2 linked regions of the Homo sapiens genome follow. The protein of the gene in region 1 interacts with the protein of each later gene in a biochemical or structural test. Each region holds a gene or a part of one and is shown on either strand. Other genes may lie near its edges.

The links.
Region 2: the proteins of DDX46 (region 1) and APBB1 form a complex in vitro, tested with the Homo sapiens proteins (one study listed by BioGRID).

What each region holds. Positions count from the first base shown.
Region 1 is NC_000005.10:134,786,040-134,789,854, reverse strand, and holds part of DDX46 (probable ATP-dependent RNA helicase DDX46), read right to left. Parts: intron 1,343-3,815; coding exon 1,264-1,342; intron 640-1,263; coding exon of another isoform or gene 587-639; exon of another isoform or gene 241-586; intron 1-240. UniProt on the Homo sapiens protein: Component of the 17S U2 SnRNP complex of the spliceosome, a large ribonucleoprotein complex that removes introns from transcribed pre-mRNAs.
Region 2 is NC_000011.10:6,412,327-6,416,141, forward strand, and holds part of APBB1 (amyloid beta precursor protein binding family B member 1), read right to left. Parts: intron 1-3,815. UniProt on the Homo sapiens protein: Transcription coregulator that can have both coactivator and corepressor functions. Adapter protein that forms a transcriptionally active complex with the gamma-secretase-derived amyloid precursor protein (APP) intracellular domain.

The sequences.
Region 1 (3,815 bases):
ATCCCAATTTTATTAAGTGAACCCACTGACTTAAATAAATGCAACTGGCTTCCTAACCAGTGAAAACAAAATACATACATAGGAAATTCCTTCTAAAATATTAACAGAAGCATTGCTATCAACTGTTGAATCAATCACCTGGCAAAAACACGTATAAAATAGTTATTTAAAAATAGACCACAATGACAGATAAGAGAAAAAGGTAAAATTAATCAAGATGAATTTCAGGAGGAGACTTAATCAATGCAGCATTGAGAAAAAAAAAAAGGGATTATTTAATCAGCATTCAAACCAAAACTTTCCATATGCTAGACAAGCACAATGACTTCTCAATTTCGATGTCACTTTGCCAACTTCATGTACAATTAGAATTAGAAATTCAAGCAGAATACTACTAGAAACATGCACTAACTCAGTTTTTAATACTCTATTATGTACACACTAAATATTGCAATGGAAACCTCTGAGAGCATTTTCTTCAAAAAATAAAAAGTGCCAAAATAAGTGCTATCTAATATTTAAGTATTCCACACTAGCATTTGTAGCCCCAATTAGTTTTGCAAGGTCGGGAACAGCATTAAATTACCTACCTTTGATGGTTTAAGTCTCGGAAGCCCAGTTCTATAAATCTTGAAGGGCCTTTCTCCACAGAAGTTAAATAATGTCAACAGTTTAGTAAGAGTTTTGATAGGGAATAATTTAACAAAGCATAACATTTGAGCTACAAACATGCAATATTTACAAAAGATAAAATTTCTTGAAGCTGCAATATCTTAATTTATGTAGTATCTAAGAAAATACTAGCTCATGTGGAGAAAAAGTCTAAATTTTGTAATAAAGAAAAAGCTACTACCCCACTCTTTTACTAAGCAAAGCCAGGCCAAAACTGGATTAAGAATCCAAGTTATGATCAGATGGAGTTACTTCTGAAAAAAAATTTTAAATTGCAAAAATATCATTAATGCTTGTAATAATCAACTTGTTACAATTATTATTTTTTTTTTTTGAGACGGAGTCTTACTCTGTCACCCAGGCTGGAGTACAGTGGTGCGATCTTGGCTCACTGCAAGCTCCGCCTCCCGGGTTCAAGCTATTCTCCTGCCTCAGCCTCCCAAGTAGCTGGGACTACAGGCTACAAATTTTAAGATACTGCAGCTTTAAGAAGAAATATAGAAACCCTTTGTTGGTTTCTTGCATCTGTTTTAACAAAAAAAAGTAAAGAATTCAAAAATAAAAGACACCAAAAAAATACCCCTGACTTACCACTGTTAGCGGCTAACATGTCAATCATTCGACCAGGTGTGCAAACAATAATTTCAGCACCTCTTTTCAGCTCAGCAATCTAATAAAAAAGATGAAACTTTATAGTCTATTACTAATGCTTACTTAAACACTAAAAAATACTGCATTTAGTTCTTGCCTAGTCTAATTAGAAGACTTCCAAGCTTCCTGCTTAATTATTTTGAATCTCGGGGCACTACTAAAGAAATAGCAACAACGTGACCACATAGTGCCATAAATTTGAAACAAATAAGAACTAGAGAATTCTGCAAATTTGATTTGCCACTATCCCTCAAAACCAAGAAATGAACTTAAGAAAGCAGTTTAAAAAAAAAAAGTGATAATCTCTTGAGCCCAGGAGTTCAAGGTTGGAGTGAGCTATGATCACATCCTTGCACTCCAGCCTGAGCAAGAGCAAGACCCTGCCTCAGAAAAAGAAATTTCTAAGTGACCACATAGACTAGTGTTTTTCAAATTGAGGGTTGCCACATTAGTGAATCATGAAATCACTTTAACAGTCATAATCAGCTTTTTTTTTTTTTTTTTTTGAGACAGGGTCTCACTCTGTTGCCCAGGCTCTGTTGCCCAGTGCAGCAGTGTCATCATAGGTCATTGCAGCCTAGATCCTGGGCTCAAGTGACCCTCCCATCTCAGCCCCTCCCCCCACCACCCCACACACCCTCCCAGTATCTAGGACTACAGGCACTCGCTAATTTATTTACTGTTTTAAGAGATGGGGTCTCACTACATTGCCCAGGCTGGTCACAAACTCCTGGACTCAAGTGATTCTTCCATTTCAGCCTCCCAAAATGCTGTGATGATTACAGGTATGAGCCATAGTGTTCAACCACAACCAGCATTTTTTAAATGAAATGGAATGGAAAATACCAGAAGTCCCTTAACATCATAAAACTTTTGTTTGGCATTTATATAAATACAACGTGCAGGCATGTACCATGTTATTTTGTAAGTGTATTTCTACAAACTACAGTCATGAAAAATCATAAAGATAAACTTAGAAAATGAAGTAATTTGAAGTAATTAAAATAGCACTGGAGTTAACAAAAGCAAATATTCTTGAAGTGTGTTCTTGTAACAATAGTCCTAAGAAACAGTTTTGTAGTTAAGTTCAGAAAACGTCACTTAATTTATCCCATTTATCTAGCAACACAATATACATTAGCTTATTAAGAACAAAGAAGTCTTACAGGAAAGAAAGTGGTTTTAACTTTTTATACTCCAACATTTCCAAAACTTATCCAATCACAGAACCTACTTTTTTGCCTTCTTCTAGTTAAGCAAAATATCTGAAAACTATTTCATTCTTTAGAAGACAGCTGAAGGGCTGGTCACAGTGGCTCACGTCTATACCTTTCGGAGGTGTTACAAAGGGAAGCCAAGGCAAGCAGATTGCTTGAGCCCAGGAATTCAAGACCAGCCTGGGCAACATGGCAAAACCTCGTCTCTACAAAAAAATACAAAAACTAGCCGGGTGTGGTAGCATGCGTCTGTGGTCCCAGATACTCAGGAGGCTCAAGAGGGAGGACGGCTTAAGCCCAGGAGGTCAAGGATGCAGTGAGCCAAGGTCACACCACTGCACTCCAGCCCGGGCAACAGAGTAAGATGCTGTCTCCAATAAAACAAAACCAAAAAACAACAACAACAACAACAACAAAACACCTCTGATATTAATGCATCCCAGTAATCACCATCACTTCCGCCACCCCCCAAGATGGAGTCTTGCTCTGTCTCCCAGGCTGGAGTGCAGTGGCGTGATCTCAGCTTACTGCAACCTCCGCCTCCCAGGTTCAAGTGATTCTCCTGCCTCAGCCTACCGAGTAGCTGATATTACAGGCAGGCGCCACCAAGCCAGGCTAATTTCTGTGTTTTCAGTAGAGACGGGGAGTCTCGCCATGTTGGCTAGGCTGGTCTTGAGCTCCTGACCTCATGATCCACCCGCTTCGGCCTCTCAAAGCGCTGGGATTACAGGCATGAGCCACCGTGCCTGGCCACCATCACTTTTTAAAGATGTCAGCATAGATTAGAGAAACAAATGCTCAGAGATCAGAGACCTAGGTTCCAGGACAAACTCTAGAACGTATTAACCTAATTGGTCAACTTAATAAATCTTTCTGAATATTTCCTCATATGTAAAATGAAAAAAAAAATCTGCTTTCTCAGGCAGGGGAAGAGGGAGGAGGGATAATCTATGTAAAAAGATTCAAAAATTCTAATCTAGCATTAACATAGTATGTTCTTTTTTGCCACAACTATATTGGGTCATAATTAACAAAAATTATATATATTTAAGGTGTACAACATGTTTGATATACATATACACTCTGAAATGATGAACACAATCAAGCTAACATATCACCTCATATAGTTACCAATATTTTCTTTTGTGGTAAGAACATGTAAGATTGGTCAGGCACGGTGGCTCACACCTGTAATCCCAACACTTTGGGAGGCCGAGGCAGGAGGATCACCTGAGGTCAGGTGTTCAAGACCAATCTGGCCAATATGGTGAAACC
Region 2 (3,815 bases), on another chromosome or scaffold:
ATTTTTAGTAGAGACGGGGCTTCACCATGTTGGTCAGGCTGATCTCAAACTCCTGACCTCGTGATCCGCCCACTTCGGCCTCCCAAAGTGCTGGGATTACAGGCATGAGCCACTGCGTCCGGCCCAGCCTTTCAGATCTTTGACCAAATGTCACAGCCTCAGTGAAGCCTTCCCTGAACACCCATTTTAAAACCACAGGCTACCTCCGCCCCTCCTCAGCAATCCCTAAACTCTTCCCCAGCGCCTGTCACCATCTGACAAGCCAATTTATTATTTACTTTGTCTAATGATTGTCTCCTCATGACTATAATTTATAATTTCCATGTTGGTGAGGATTTTGCCTTTTTGGTTAAATACAGTATGCCTAGTGCCTAGCGTAGTCCTGGCACAGAGCAGGAACTCCATTAATATTTGCTGAATGAATGTATGAATCAGTCCCCATTTCCTCCAGGCTTCGCTTTGGCATCTCCTCTGCCAGTGTCAGAAAACACTTTGGTTACGTTACTATGCCTTATGGTGCCCCAAACAAACTCCACCTGCCTCTCAGGTAAGAGGACGTCCTGTTCCGCAAGGACAGCTCCCCCTCCAGACCCCTCCCTCTGCCTCCTCACAGCCCTTCGTGGGTCAGTTTCTCCGCAACCATTTGAGTCCCAACTATCCTTCCAGCCCGCCACCCAGGGACCCACCCTCGGCCCCATTCCATCCTCCCCACTCTCCCTGACCTTCCAGTTGCTCTGCTGCTCTCCTTCCCGGACCCCCAAGAGAAAGTGCTCTCTCCCTGGACCCTCACCAGCCCCCGATTTCAGTTATTTCTCCCTGACCAACCACTGCCCACTTCTCTCTCATCCTGAGCCCTCCATGCAAGCCCTCCTTCAGACAGCCCCTACCACATTACTCTCTCCTCCCTCGATGGCCTCACTGATTCTCTTGCCCTACCCGACCCTTCCCCCAACAGACAATTCTCCCTCACTGACCATCCCAACAAACACTGCACTGTGCTCTTTCTCATTCCCACTGTACAGACCTTTCTCCTTGATGTCTTATCTGAGAGTTCCCTATCTCCCTGTTCCTCTACTAAGGAGTTCTTTCTTTCCCTGACTCACCACTACCCCCCTTCCCTCTGTGTTCTCAGCGCTGAGCACAGGTCTTGCAGCTACCTGAGCAGGGCTTGCCCATCTCTCCAGGTGCGGTGCGCCCAGGCTGGAGTGCAATGGCACGATCTCAGCTCACTGCAACCTCCTGCAGCCTCCTGAGTAGCTGGGATTATAGGTGCCCACCACCACGCCCAGCTAATTTTTGTAATTCTTTTTTTTTTTTTCTTTTAAGTAGAGATAGGGTTTCACCATGTTGGCCAGGCTGGTCTCAAACTCCTGACCTCAGGTGATCCACCCGCCTCAGCCTCCCAAAGTGCTGGGATTACAGGCGTGAGCCACCGCGCCCGGCCCCATAGCTCACCTTTCTACGTCTCTAGTTCCTCAGACACTAGTGCTATGCTACCCACACATCTGTAAGATGAAAAAGGTTTCTGCGCACGTGTCTGCCTCACGTGGGGCTGTTGATCTGCTCAGTGTGACTCCTCCTGGCCAATGAGAAAACTCACAGCCACTGGAATAAATGAAGAAAAAAATAGCTCTACCTCCTCCCAGAACCACAGTAATCTTCCAAAAATGGAAACCAGATTGTGTCACTCCCTGGTTCAGAAAATGAGAGGGCTCACCACTGCCTTTCGGATAACGCCTGCACTCGTTCGCAGACACCCAAGAGCCCTCTTAAGCCGGCCTCTATAACCTGTCAGTCCCCTCCCCACCTCCCGCCTCCTTTATACCTTATACTCTAGCCACATGAAGCGTGGCGGATTCTGAAACATGTCGCACACTCTTAAAGCCCTGGGTCTTTGTTTATACTGCTCCCTCGGCCTGGAATTCTGTCTCCCCTTGTGAGAACCTCTGCTTGTATTTCAAAACTAACCTCAGCAGTTACAGCTCCTAAGCAGTCTTTCCTGTTCTCTCCCCACCATCAAGTGACTGTTCTCTCCTTCGTGTCTCACAACACCCAGAACCACATTCTATCAGAATATCTGAGACGGTGTCTTATTCAATTTCACATTCCCATTACCAAAGAGAGTGTGCCGTGTGCCGACACAGACTGGGCTGTTGCAGAAGGAAAGGACGGATGAACGGGACAGACACAGGGGGTGGGAGGATCCAGGAAGCTCAGAACTGGCTGGGAATAAATACCAAGAAAGGCTGTGTGGCCCAATGGGCTGGGGAGGAGCAAAGGGAGTGTTTGGGAGGGTGTCAGAGAATGCCAAAGGGTCCCTGAGTGGGAAGTAAGATGGGACAGGAATCCTGGAGAGGTGAGGGCTGAGATCTAGGAAAAGGGAGCGAGGGAGGTAGCTTAAACCAACATCTTGGCACAGACACTGTTCAAGAGTGGCATCTCCATGGGTGTCAGGAAGCAGAAGACTCCACGACTCTGCCATGCTCAGAGGACCTTAAGGATGGCAAACCCTTCTCTGAAGCAGTAGTGTACAGAGCCAGGTTTCTCAAAGGTCAGGCAGAGACCAACCTCCTAGGCACTAGGAGATATGATCTGAGAAGAGTGCATGCACTGTGAGGCTGAAACAGTGAAGAGCCAAGTTGACCTCAGGGCAGCCCCGCCAATCTGGTCACCAGGGCAGGAAGTATTAGAGGAAGAATGGTGAAACTGTTTAAGTGCTGAAGCCTGAGCATCTAGCCTGAGGTGGTGTGGTCACCAACACCCCACTGCTCGAGGTCAAAAAGATGATCTCAGTCCAATTTTTTAAAGAAGGAACACAACCTAATCTCTCCCCTCTCATTGGAGTTACCAAAGGATGCAAAGAGCCAACTGGGTTCTGGCTCAAGGCAGGGAGTTGGGCAGGGGCCTCGGGGCAGGAAGTGAAAGAAGTAGTCACTAAGCCTGAAGATCCTGGCATCAGACCACAGGGGTTGGGGTTGAGTCTTGCTCAAAGTCAGGAGTTGTCTAATCTGACAGCTTCCCATATGCCAGGCACTGTGCTAGACACAGGGGAGAGTGATGAAGACAAAAGAAATGGTTCTTCCTCTGGAGGAGTTCTCAGTTCAGCGGGAAACAGTCATTGAACAACTTGTTACAATGCAGTGTAACACCAACATCTAGAACAGTGCCTGGCACCCATAGCATTCCCTATTTGTTGACTGAATATCATGAAGGAGGAAGAGGAGGGCATTACAGGAACCTGGGGCTTACTACAGCCAAGACATCAGCAAAGGCCTGCCTGAGACTAGGACATAACTCTCCATTGGCCACCCGTCTCAGAGGCTGATCTCCCCTCCTGATTCACAGAGGAAAGGGAAGCCATCCAACTGGGTAACATCCTCAAACATAAAAACCTAACCAAACTTCAGCACCTATCCCTTTCTCTCCTTCCCAAAACCAACTGCTTCACCTATGATTTGGATTCTTCCTATGATGCCTTTCCAGGAATTTTATACCACTGTTTATCTATTTTCTCCTCTATATGATCAACCTCTCCTTCTCAATAGGATCCACGGTCTCCCAACTTGACCTGACGCTCCTCCAGATCCACTCACTGCTCTCTTTCCTCCCCCATACAGGCAAACTTCCTGAGAGAGTTGTCTCCACTCACTGTTGCCACTTCCTCACCTCCCACTCACTCCTCAACCCTTTCCAAACCTGCTTCCACTCCCAACACGACTCAGTAACAGCTCCTACCAAGGTCAACATGACCCCTGTGTCATTCAATCCAACAGACACAGTGCTCGTCTTGGTTGTCCTCCCAGCAGCATCTGACC